Linked DNA regions of Homo sapiens: all the other regions are reported to be linked to region 4. Evidence: microRNA targets listed by miRTarBase, many of them from high-throughput screens and not tested one by one. Region 4 holds a microRNA gene; each other region holds the end of a gene's coding sequence.

The links. Region 4 holds the annotated microRNA hsa-miR-548c-3p (CAAAAAUCUCAAUUACUUUUGC, at 1,974-1,995, shown strand). A microRNA usually pairs through its seed, bases 2 to 8, with sites in the 3' UTR of a target mRNA and lowers its output. Matches are read on the target gene's strand: a 7mer-m8 pairs with bases 2 to 8, a 7mer-A1 pairs with bases 2 to 7 and ends in A, and an 8mer does both.
Region 1: the mRNA of RPL32 is a reported target of hsa-miR-548c-3p. Seed matches in the 3' UTR shown: 7mer-m8 at 1,988-1,994.
Region 2: miRTarBase lists CEP20 as a target of hsa-miR-548c-3p. Seed matches in the 3' UTR shown: 7mer-A1 at 1,081-1,087, 7mer-m8 at 1,459-1,465, 7mer-A1 at 1,578-1,584, 7mer-A1 at 1,650-1,656, 7mer-A1 at 1,948-1,954 and 7mer-A1 at 2,072-2,078.
Region 3: the mRNA of HEPH is a reported target of hsa-miR-548c-3p. The part of its 3' UTR that is shown has no 7-base or 8-base seed match.

What each region holds. Positions count from the first base shown.
Region 1 is chr3:12,833,426-12,836,539 of GRCh38, forward strand. RPL32 (ribosomal protein L32) reads right to left here. Exons shown (of 4, transcript NM_000994.4): 4 at 1,060-2,798. The coding sequence ends at 2,669. CAND2 (cullin associated and neddylation dissociated 2 (putative)) reads left to right here. Exons shown (of 15, transcript NM_001162499.2): 15 at 330-1,378. The coding sequence ends at 557. Among named protein-coding and RNA genes, the nearest start is that of SNORA7A, 5.5 kb to the right of the region's middle.
Region 2 is chr16:15,865,021-15,868,131 of GRCh38, reverse strand. It overlaps CEP20 (centrosomal protein 20), which reads left to right. Exons shown (of 5, transcript NM_144600.4): 5 at 616-2,413. The coding sequence ends at 692. Among named protein-coding and RNA genes, the nearest start is that of MYH11, 9.5 kb to the right of the region's middle.
Region 3 is chrX:66,266,082-66,269,195 of GRCh38, reverse strand. It overlaps HEPH (hephaestin), which reads right to left. Exons shown (of 21, transcript NM_001367233.3): 21 at 1,807-2,756. The coding sequence ends at 2,524. Among named protein-coding and RNA genes, the nearest start is that of HEPH, 100 kb to the right of the region's middle.
Region 4 is chr12:64,620,596-64,623,709 of GRCh38, forward strand. MIR548C (microRNA 548c) reads left to right here and starts at 1,914; the gene lies at 1,914-2,010. All of the region lies in intron 1 of RASSF3 (Ras association domain family member 3), which reads left to right. MIR548Z (microRNA 548z) reads right to left here and starts at 2,010; the gene lies at 1,914-2,010. RefSeq lists an enhancer at 836-995.

The DNA of each region.
Region 1 (3,114 bases), not on the chromosome of region 4:
AGTCTGTAGGAGGTAAGTATGGGAACACAGTACTTGCCACTGTCAATTAACAAAAAGCGAGCACTTCAGATTGGCTGCTCAGAGGCCCCTCAGGCTGTACTCAAGCTGATTTGAATGGCAAAGAACCTCTGTGGGGAAACTAGCCAGTGCAAAAGCCCAGAGGTGGAGTTAGGAAATAGCTGGTGAGACAGAAGCCTCAGGAGACCTCGCAGCAGGGATTTATGTTGGGGAAGATGATGGGGCAGAGAGGAAGCCAAAGACCAGTGAGGAGGCAGTGGTGTGGGCCAGGCTCAATAAAGGATGGCTGCTTCTGCTGTTTCCTACTTTAGGTCAAAGCTGGTTCTGTGAAGCAGGAGTTTGAAAAGCAAGATGAACTGAAGCGCTCTGCAATGAGGGCAGTGGCTGCCCTGCTGACCATCCCCGAGGTGGGGAAAAGCCCCATCATGGCCGACTTCTCTTCCCAAATCAGATCCAACCCTGAACTTGCTGCCCTCTTTGAAAGCATCCAGAAGGATTCCGCTTCAGCCCCCAGCACAGACTCAATGGAGCTCAGCTAGTCCCCTCAGCACCAAGGTGGGCCCTCGCTTAAGAGAAAGGAGCCCACCCAAGTCCGAGGCCTCCCCATCCCACCATCGCAGGTCTCTACTTTTGCCCTTCCACCATCTCACTGGGGGCCCTGTCGCTCCTGGTCAGGGCTTACAGTGCCTTCTCCAGGGACCCAACTCAAAGGCCCCCAGCCCAAGCTGTGAGGCTGCCAACAGTTGGGCCCCTTCCTTAACTCAGGACAGTCATCCAAAGAAATAGGGTGAGGAAGTTTTCCAGTGACTTCACACTGTACCCCTCCATAGTCTGTCTGGTTCCTTCAGAGGGTGTCTCTGCCTCACAAACTAGTAGTATTTAGAAATAGGCTGTGCTGTCAGCTGTAAAAGATCAGGAGGCAGCAGACACCACTCTGGTTTCTTCACTGCATTCAGCAATGCCTGAAGTTAGTGCTCAGGCCGGGCATCTCAAAAGAAAAGATACTTGAGTTATTCACATTTTAAAATTCAAAACGGTTCATTTTTAAGTGGCAGTGATGAATCAGAAATTTGGAAGATGATACGGGTTTCTTTTTTCCAGGGAGGAGGAATGGGTTGGGTAGGGAACTGGACAGGCTTGGACCTCATGTTTCATTTCTAATTTCAAAATACTTATTAGCAAATTGGGCAACAATGGGCATCTTCCATGCCACCACCCAGGCATAACCAGTTGGTTTGTTTCCTTCTGAGGAAGGTTTCAAATGTGTCTAGTGTTCAGTATTGAGGACAAAGAAATACAAGTGGCAGGCCCAAGTATTTTCTGTGATATCCCAGGTTAATAAAGATTAGATTCTAAGTTACTTCTTTCCTCTGCACGACTCGTCTCCAATTGTTAATCGAATCGCCTGAACCCAGGAGGCAGAAGTTGCAGGGAGCCAAGATCAAGCCACTGCACTCCAGCCGGGGTGACAGAATGAGTCTCAAAAACAAAATCCCAAAAATGACCAGTTTGCATTATAAATATTTATGACTAGGTTTTGAACAGGAGACAATCTGTAAGATTCCTGTCTAGACTAGAAGTAGAAAAGCTTTATTATACCCAGCGCAGCATTTCTGCTAAGTTGACCAGGATGGTTACAGAAAAACATCCTGTAAGCATTTCTGTCTCATAAGTACCACATCCCATATCCCTCATGACCTATATACTACAGAAGATGCCTGTAATCCCAGTACTTTGGGAGGCTGAAGCAGGATTGCTTGAGCTCAGGAGTTCGGGAGCCTAGGCAACATGGCTAGACCACCTCTACAAAAAAACTTCAAAAACTACCCAGGTTTGGAGGTGTGCATCTGTAGTCCCAGCTACTTGGAAGGCTGAGGTGGGAAGATCACCTGAGCCTGGGGAGGTCAAGGCTGTAGTCAGTGTGCCACTGCACTCCCAGCCTGGGTGAGAGCAAGACCCCGTCTCCAAAAAAAATCAGGACCACGTGTCACTAAATTCTGAGTACCAGTCAAGAGGCTCAATTGTCACCAGTTAGGTCCCCGCCTTGGCAAACTGCTGTAACATTATACCTGAAGCAGCAGCTGGTGGGAGGGTTATAGGAGACTGAAAGTGCTTTTCCAGTTAACCGTGGTGGATTACCTGGAAGAGCAATTTGTACATCATCCTGTTCTTTTTGGACAGAAGTTACAGGATGCAATTTAGGCATCCCGTAAGAATCTGTGTAAGAAATTCATCTGGATATTTCCATGCATATTTTCTCAATTCTCACAAGCATCACATGGAATAACTTGTCACCTAACTTTACAAAAGCAAGGCTAAGAATGACTACTTGTGGCTTGGGAGCCACAAGCTTCTTCAAGTGTCTCAGAACCTACCTGGTGTGAGGGCCAAGTCTGTACCCCTCATACCCAGCCTCAACTGGAGATGACTAAGGCTAGTCTGTGCACTTGAGGCCACATTCCCCTGTTCAAGGACTGAGTGTCCTTTACAAATCCCCTCCAAATGGGAGATTCCAAAGGGGCTTAAGCAAAAGAACAATCTCTGTGGCAAACTAAGTTGGCCAAGAAGCTGAAGACTTAAAATCAAGGAAGGAAGATGCCAGATGGCAGTTTTTACATTTATTTAAACAGAAAACGTGCACATGAGCTGCCTACTCATTTTCTTCACTGCGCAGCCTGGCATTGGGGTTGGTGACTCTGATGGCCAGTTGGGCAGCTCTTTCCACGATGGCTTTGCGGTTCTTGGAGGAAACATTGTGAGCGATCTCGGCACAGTAAGATCTGCAAGAGAATCAAGTAGGTAAGGAGCAAGACAGCCCTCAACACACTTGGAAAATTCCATTGGAGAGGCAATGAGTCCCAGCACCAAGCTAAGAGAGGGCTGCTTGGTAAGTGGCTGTGGAATGACACCTACATGCCCCCAAATCCTGACTATGGTTCCCTGGTGGTGACAAGAATGCTTTCATTAAAAAGTACCCTCATTGTCCCCTCTCATCCTTATAGCAGCCTTGTAATCCAGGCATTACCTCCATTTTACAGATAAAGAAACCAAGGCCCACAGCAAGCAATGGACAGGGATCCGGGGCGAACCCAGGCC
Region 2 (3,111 bases), not on the chromosome of region 4:
CATTCCTTACATGTAAGAGAGAGGTTTGTAACTACTTATGCATGGGTTTACTGCAGGTTGTACTCTACTCAAAAAAAAAGTCAAGAAACTCTTTTGAATAATTAGAGTCCCTAATGCCAGACATTTCTGATTTCTTTCTTTTTTTTTTTTTTTTTTTTGAGACCGAGTTTCACTCTTGTTGCCCAGGCTGGAGTGAAATGGCACGATCTTGGCTCACTGCAACTTCTGCCTCCCAGGTTCAAGCAATTCTCCTGCCTCAGCCTCCCGAGTAGCTGGGATTACAGGCGCCTGCCACCACGCCCGGGTAATTTTTGTATTTTGAGGAGACACGGGGTTTCACCATGTTGGCCAGACTAGTCTATAACTCTTGACCTCAGGTGATCCACCCACCTCGGCCTCCCAAAGTACTGGGATTACAGGCGTGAGCCACCACGCTTGGCCTCTGATTTCTTCAATAGTGTTTAAAAAATAATGGGTTTTTTTCATTGTCCTAAACCATCTAAAGTACTCATAGAATATTAAATATGTAACATCCTAAGATATTTGTAGCTATGTCTACCTATCTGTGTGTTTTGACTTGGGATAAGTATTAACATTGGTTTCTGTGCATTTCAGATGACCACCTAAGAAAGGAGGAACAGAAAAGTACTAACATTGAAGATCTTCATGTTTCTCAGGCAGTCAACAGATAATGCTTTGTTTGGGGTATCTTTTGTCTTAAAATTGTATTATTAATTAAATAACTTATTTATTGTCCCAATGTTACCAAAATGCACCACTAATGTTTGTAGAAATTGGAGTTTCTACAAAACACCCCTCATGTTTAACTACATTTGTGAATAAAAGCTAACTCTTGTCATCTAGCTTATTGGATTTGACTTGAAAAAAAAAGTATTGTTTTTACGAAGTATTTTTTGTTTTTTTGAGATGGAGTCTCGCTCTGTCACCCAGACTGGAGTGCAGTGGCACGATCTCGGCTCACTGCAATCTCTGCCTCCCGGATTCAAGTGATTCTCCTGCCTCAGCCTCCCAAGTAGCTGGGAAAACAGGCCTGTGCCACCACACCGGAGTAGTTTTTGTATTTTTAGTAGAGATGGGGTTTCACCATGCTGGCCAGGCTGGTCTTGAACTCCTGACCTCAGGTGATCTGTGTGCCCCAGCCTCCCAAAGCGCTGGGATTACAGGTGTGAGCCACTGAGCCCAGCCATTTAGGAAGTATTATAAAGGCCCTTAAAGTTTGTAAGGAAATGAAAGGGCTTTGTATTACCTTTTCAATAGGCAACAATGTACTTTTTCTTTCCTTAGACTTTGGCTTACTGGAAGATTTAATTAAAAGGTAGAGGAGAAGTAAATTTGCTGTAATAATTTTGCTGTAAATAAAACAAAGAGTTTATTTTATTAGATAAAGAATGTGAAGTAAGCATGAAGAGACAGGCTTTGGGAGAAATACCAGAAAGGGATTTTTCAAAGATGGCATTGTTTAATCTCCGTGTGGCCCTCGGTTGTGCAATCACAGATGAGCCAGAAGAGGGCCAGCCCCCTACTTGTTTGGGCTCCGAAACTCTTACCAAACATCAATTTTTATTCTTGGGATAGAAAAATAGTATGTGCTATCTCTAATACGCTACTTCGATATTTATTAAAGAAGTATTTTTAATGTAGTGTCCACAGGCTCATTTCATTGAAAACAACTGACTATGATGATAGACAGCTCCTGATTGGCAAAAGTTCGATGGTATATTCAGAATTAAATTTTGCCTGCACACCTAAACACTGACAACATTTAGCTTAAAGGTTTTCCATGGAGAAGAGTGGTAAGAGCTGTAGTTAGCAAAATTGGCATCCTCTTTAGGGTGTCAATTCTGTGCTGCTTTGCAAATTGTTGAAACTTTTGATTTTCTGTTTGGCAATGCTAGTCAGTGTTCACTTCTTACAGATTAGCCAAGAATTTTTATCTAAATGCAGAAACTTATTAATGAAATCCATTTAAACTATACTTACACAACATTTTGGGAGGCCCTGCTGGTAAAATTATATATGGATGCAGAAGTATTGCAAGAGTCCATTTTCCATTTTTAAATCTGCAATATCTGATTACATTGATGAATTCCGTTGTATTGTATGTGTGAATATAAATATCTGAATTCTCCCGGGGGACTTGGTTTTCGTCCAAGGATGTTGGCAGTGGACACTTAGTTTACCTCAGGAATTGCAATCATGTAAGACTATATTCGGAAAAAATGCTGGAGTATATAATTTTGGATACTGATATAAAATCATCAAGATGGAAGTTAAGCAGAATTGTCACGTGTAGTCCATAGCGCTTTTATATGCATTATTCTGTAATTTGTTTGTACTGCGGCAACTTTTTATACTTTCAATGTATCATTTAATAAAAAAAATAAGCAAGTCACTTTGGTGCAAAGGGTGTTCATATCACTGTTCTCTCATCAAAAGCCACACATCAAAAACAGAAGAATGATTGGAGATGGCTGCCATGCCTTCCGTCGGGATCTTCAGAAGCTTCGCTGTTGAGGGGTGGAGGCGGGGGTACTTTCCTGCCGTCTGCACATGTTTATAGGAAGGAAGGAAAAGCACAGAGGACAAGCCAACCCTTCTCATAAATGTGTTATATTTAAGTACCTTACTCGTGGGTTTCTTGGAATTGTCGGGAGAACTTATCTTCTAGAGATGCTCCAGAAGTTTTAGGAGAAAACTTGGATTTACACAAAAACAGGATGGGAATGGGAACTGAAGAGGGATTTAGGAAATGTACAACTTGGGTGATCTAAAACCTCATAGCAGGAGCAGAGGTGGCTTTTGAAGAAGATAAATTTAAGCTTAGTGTATATGCTTGCACAGAACAAACTAATAGCCTTATAATGATGTGCAAGAACACATTTGTGTATCACTCACATACCTTTATGTTGATGTAAAATTTGATGTGTTCTTTTAAAGCCAAGTGTACATGAAAGATGAACATTTGTGAGAATATGCCTTTAAAGGCATTTGGGACAATGCTTCCCGGCCACTTGGTACTTGATTTTTTGGTAACAACCACGATTCGAGGATTGTGTGGTGTTCAGGAATCTTATTAAAATAAAAGTGAAA
Region 3 (3,114 bases), not on the chromosome of region 4:
CAGTACTGTGCTGTTTTTGTTACTATAACTCTGCAGTATAATTTGAAATCAGGTAATGTAATTCCCCCAGTTTTCTTTTTCCTCAGGATAGCTGTGGGTATTCTGTGTCTTTTGTGGTTCTGTATGAATTTTAGGATTTTTTTTTTAATTTCTGTGAGGAATGTCATTAGTATTTTGATAGGGATTGTACTGAATCTATAGATTGCTTTGGGTCAGATGGTTGTGTTTTAAACTTAGGTGGTAGCAATGGAGATGGAAACGAATAGCAATGGAGATAGAAACAAATGAATAGGATAAATACATTTTGGAGATAAAACCGAGACTCACTGATGTGTTGACACTGATAATTTCCAGCTTGAGCAACTGAATAGATGGCAATGTCACTTGATTGTCAAAAATAGATACTTGTATCCCTACTTGGAGCAAACTTACCACAAAAATACATTTCTTTCTTAAATACATGGGCTCTGAGTTTCTATTCCTTGACCTGGAGCAGGATTACAAAATAAGAAGAAATGCATTCCATCTCATCTACCTCTCCTAGTCTCTTAGAGTTATAACTGAGACCAAGCTAAGAACCTCCTAGTTGCATGTAAATTATAACCATTAATTGACTGGAATTCCTAGCATGTACTTGGTCTTCATTAACATTCATGTTAACTGCAGGCCAAAACAGTTCTGCTGCTGTTAAATCATTGATTCTGCAATGGCCTAAACACTAACTCTTGGATAACTAGCCATCTAAATCCCCCTTCCACCCACACTTTATTTCTGAGATTCTCAGTAAAGCTCTCCAGAAACCCATTGACCATGGAAAAACAAGAGGAATCATAGCTTCTGGATTGTGTTTTCTCCTCCAAACTTATATCGTAACTGAACACCAGCTCTGTGAGTTTCTACATTTTATCTTCAAGAGATTGCTACCTAGACAGACAGATTGCTGGACAGACAGAAAAGTTGGAATCAATATGGGTAAGGTGGATGGAGATTAGTGGATGTTTCCATGATATATGAGGATGAAATAGGTATTTGGAGTCAAACAGATGAATACATGAATCCCTGCTCAACTTCTACCTGAGGGATCTTGGATGAAGTTACTTAATGTCCATAAGCTTTTGTTCACTCAAATGTATAAATGGATAACATTACTCAAATGTAAAATGACTTGCCCTGAGGTAATCCAAACGCAATCAAGAATTAAAATGCTTTTTAAAGTGTAAAACAGTACATAGTTATCATCTTTTCTCTCCTTGATACCTCTTCTGTTCTCCACTTGCCATGTGGTACAATATTATGGATATTGCAGTGGGGTGGGCCATCTTACCCAATCTAAAATTTATCACTTATCTGTGCTCTCTAACCAATATTTGGCTCAAATTTGCATGTAACAAAGGAATATTGCTGTAAAATACCAGAAAGAATGACTCCATCCTATAAGGAAGCCCCCAAAGTTGCAACTAGACCTTTCACACCACCACTGCCAAAAAGGCCCCATAAGATATGGTCCTACTTCCCCTGGCCCACTGGACAGGTTTGAGTCTCGTCTCAGACTTCTATTTCCCTCTGGCAAATTTTCTTGACACTCAGAAAATTTTTGTCATTTATGCGACAGCTCCTTTTCTAGGGTGGTACCCAGCACTCTTTGATGCTTCCTCTGGAACAGCTTCCTCATCTCTAAAACAAAAACTTGTAGGTTCTACAAAGGCTAGACAAATACATACTATACTCACTCACCCCCTAAGTATTTTCTGTTTCAATCACAGTGACAGAAGCCACAGAGACTGTCAAAAATCACCAAATTCAGTCTTTCAGTGTTCTAACAAGTACTTTAATGGATAGGGTTTGCTGTCTAAAACATGAAGAGGTAACTCAACATTCCTTTCAGTGCCACAGGTTAAGAACTTGGAGAACTGGCTTTCCTGAGGAGCTTCTAGCTCCAGAGGTTGTACATGCTCATGGCAGCAACAACCCATTGACCACTTCTTCAAAGTAGTTCACTGCCAAGGAGAATCAAAATTCAATTTGGATTCCCAATACTCAGCCTACCTTCAATTTCCCATCAAGCCTATATTCTTAGCCTTTAGTTTAAGTGTGGGTTATCTTAACAGCTCACTTGGCCTCAGTTCAAAGTGAAATTTCCTGAGTCCTTGAAAGAAGTAGAAACCCAATCAATGAGTTTTTCTCTTGGTCTCTACTTTGTGAGAAGGATACATTTCTAGAAATTTCAATACCTTCCAAGTGTCAGAAGGAAATATAATGTAGCTGTTGAAATTTGCGATGTAGGATAATAAGGTACTCCCTTAGTGCCAGGTGCCCACGTAGAGCAAAGAAACTAAAGAAAAAGTGAAATCATATTATTTCCATGTAAAATAAATAAAGAAAGAAATATCCAGATAAGCTTGATTGCTCCTTCTGCTTCTCCACCACCCATGCCCCTTTGAGTGTGGGGTTAGTGACTAGTCCATGGCCTGCTGGGAGTGCACTACAGATGTGCTTCCTGAGGATATCTCCAGGCTCCAGATGTTACTGTTTGAAAGACAGAAGCTTGAAGCTGTCATCCAGGATGGACCTCCTATTGCGTCGTAGCTTTCTCTGTCGATGTTGGTACCAAACCACTCCACCAAGAGCCAGAACAACGAGCAGAAGGGTGACACTAATGGCAACCAAAACAGAGGCCAGCATCTCAACATTCTTTATGGGGATCTGCATGCCCAGCATCTTCACATTGCCTTCTTCAATGTCTCTGGGGGGCACTGCTGAAATGGAGAAAAAAAAAATGGGCATCCTGGGATGGGGAGTACTCTAAAAGGTAACTATCTATAGTCATCACCTGAAAAAAACAAGTCAATCCAAATAGGACAGGAGGCCTGTCCTTATCCTTCACAAAACTAGCTGATGAAGACAGATTTAGAGGTTAGAGAATCAAGAAAACATGATGTAACAGCTATAAGGGTCCTTGAGAATCACTGAGGCCCCAGTCCATTCATGGAAAGAGCTAAGACTCAGATTGGGAAGGCCCTTGATACATGTTCTCAAATATCTAAAGGACTGTGATATAAAAAAAAAAGATGAATTTGACTTGTTCTGTATGGCTTCAGAGGGTAGAATTGGAGG
Region 4 (3,114 bases):
TGTCTACATTGTATTTTATTGAATTGGCGTTATTCCCAAATATTGGAAAATGTGGAGGTTTCTAATTTTTGCTACTGTAAATAGCACTAATAAATACCTTGAGCATGAAACCTTTTCCATTATGGATTAATTTTATAGGATAGTTGTACAAAAATGGAATTTTACTAATTATGAGGGTGTGACTTTTTATGATTCTAGTTATATATTGCCAATTTATGTCTATTTTTAAGTTTCATTACACCCTTACTTCCATTGGATATAGTCATTAAAATAGAGAAAAAAAACTTCAATAACTAAAGGCACCTTATTGCTATTTAATTTACATTCCTTTATTATTATTTTTTAAATTATTATTTTTTGAGGTGGAGTTTTACTCGTCACCCAGGCTGGAGTGTAATGGCGCGATCTTGGCTTACTGCAACCTCCGCCTCCCAGGTTCAAGAGATTCTCCTGCCTCAGCCTCCCAAGTAGCTGGGATTACAGGCGCCTGCCACTACGCCCTGCTAATTTTTGTATTTTTAGTAGAGATGGGGTTTCACCATGTTGGCCAGGCTGGTCTCAAACTCCTGACCTCAGGTGGTCCACCCACCTCGGCCTCCCAAAGTGCTGAGATTACAGACGTGAGGCACTGCGCCTGGCACATTCCTTTAATTAACTGTGAATTTAATACTTTTTAAATACTTCTGAGTAAATCTCCCTTGTGTGAGAATTGTCCATGCATGACCTTTGCCCATTTGTCTATTAGGTAGGCAAAATCTTGAGAGAGCACTGCTTGAGTCTGTGCATTTTTAGCTTGGTAGATGGTTCTGCTTTTTTGAGGTCAGCTGAACTTCAGGGTTTTTTTTGACTTACACTGTTTGTACCAAAAGGATATTACATATTCAGGCTTTCATTTTTTTAAGATGGAGTTTCGGTCATGTTGCCCAGGCTGGAGAGCAATGGTGCGAACTTGGCTCACTGCAACCTCCGCCTCCCAGGTTCAAGTGATTCTCCTGCTTCATCCTCCCAAGTAGCTGGGATTATGGGCATGCGCCACTATGCGCGGCTAATTTTTGTATTTTTAGTAGAGACAGGATTGATCAGGCTGGATGGTCTCGAACTCCTGATCTCCGGTAATCTACCCGCCTGGGCCTCCCAAAGTGCTGGGATTATAGGCGTGAGCCACCGTGCCCGGCCCAGGCATTTTGAAATACTTCAGAATGTGTTTCAGGCTGACATCACTGAAACTCAGAAAAATACTTATTACTCCTGTAGTTACAACATGGGAAAGGCATTGCTAAGAAAGCATCACCATAAATAAACCCGTGGGATTCAGAAGGTGGGGAGTTGGGTGATGTGTTTTCTACTAACCATGTGTTTTAAAAAAAAGGGTGACTAGAAGTTCCTGTTTATCTTTGAATTTCAATAAATTTAGGGCTTGTTTTCCAACCACTCTGGTAGAATTTAGAAGAACCTAACTTATTTATTTTTATCTTTTTGACAGTCTTGCTCTGTCACCAGGCTGGAGTGCAGTGGCGCGATCTTGGCTCACTGCAATCTCTGCCTCCCAGATTCAAGCTATTTTCCTGCCTCAGCCTCCTGAGTAGTTGGGATTACAGGCATGCACCACCATGTCCAGCTATTTTTTTTTTTTTTTTTGTATTTTTAGTAGAGTCAGGGTTTCACCATGTTGGTCAGGCTGGTGTCAAACTCCTGAGCTCGTTATCCGCCTGCCTTGGCCTCCCAAAGTGTTGGGATTACAGGTGTGAGCCACCGTGCCTGGCCAGTCCTAACTTATTTTGTAAGTATACTAGGTATTGAAAAAAGGATGGTAGGACAAACTGCTGGAAACCTTACCCACCAAAGATAATTTATACTGTTTACTTATAGGCTTACTGTCTTTTGTTGAAAAATTGCGATGAGAAAGGAATCGGCATTGGCATCTATTAGGTTGGTGCAAAAGTAATTGCGGTTTTTGCCATTACTTTCAGTAGCAAAAATCTCAATTACTTTTGCACCAACTTAATACTTTCAGGCTTGTTGAAGCCTAAGTAGAAAATTGTTGCTTAATCTCTTTTATTCTGATTAACTCCTACTTTAAATTTTTTCTTTCAGAATCTTTTTATCAAGTGAATCTTTTAAAAAGATGTGAAGAGTTACTTCTGACTTTATGATTGATAGATTATGAGCCCTCCTTAATCCCCAATTTCTTAATTCAAACAAGCTTACTGTGAAAATTTTCTTTTTTCTTTCTTTTTTTTTTTGAGATGGAGTCTTGCTCTGTTGCCCAGGCTGTAGTACAGTGGCACGATCTTGGCTCACTGCAACCTCCATCTCCTGAGTTCAAGTGATTCTTCAGTCTCAGCCTCCCCAGTAGCTGGGAATACAGGCGCATACCACCATGCCCAGCTAATTTTTGTATTTTTAGTAGAGACGGGGTTTCACCATGTTGGTCAGGCTGGTCTCGAACCCCTGACCTCAGGTGATCCGCCTGCCTCGGCCTCCCTGAGTGCTGAGATTATAAGCATGAGCCACCGCGCCCGGCCACCGTGAAAATTTTCTACAAATGCTTGTTTCGAGGAATCTTTTTTGATATTTTGCCAGCAAAGTCATAGGAGCAAAATTTTTTTAAATGAAAATAGAAAACAACATAGTTAAATATATCACGTAGGAGGAAAAGTACCAGTACCAAAATTAACTTTAGCATTTCTTAGTGTTTTACAGTTAACAGGGCATTCCAAGGGAATTAAAATTCAGTTGATTTTATTGGACTTTAATTTCAGAGGAACTCTGAGATGAGAAATTTAACTAGCACGTTTATCCGTTTAGGCCTTAAGCAGATGCAGGTTTCATGACATGCCAGAGGTAAATTTAGGGGTACTTGACTGTAGTGAGTAATTTCCCAGCTATGGGAAAATGTAAATATTATGTAGATGGTATAAAGAAACAATATTACGTTTGTCCATTTAAGGTCTGTTTCTGTTTGTTCAGACAGGCTTGTGGATTGCTTTTCTTGCCAGTGTTCCTTTAGGTGGAAGGTACAGCCCTTTCAGATATTTCAGAATTTTATTTTCTTTTATTTTTTTGAGATGGAGTCTCACTCTGTCACCCAGGCTGGAGTGCAGTGGCACGATC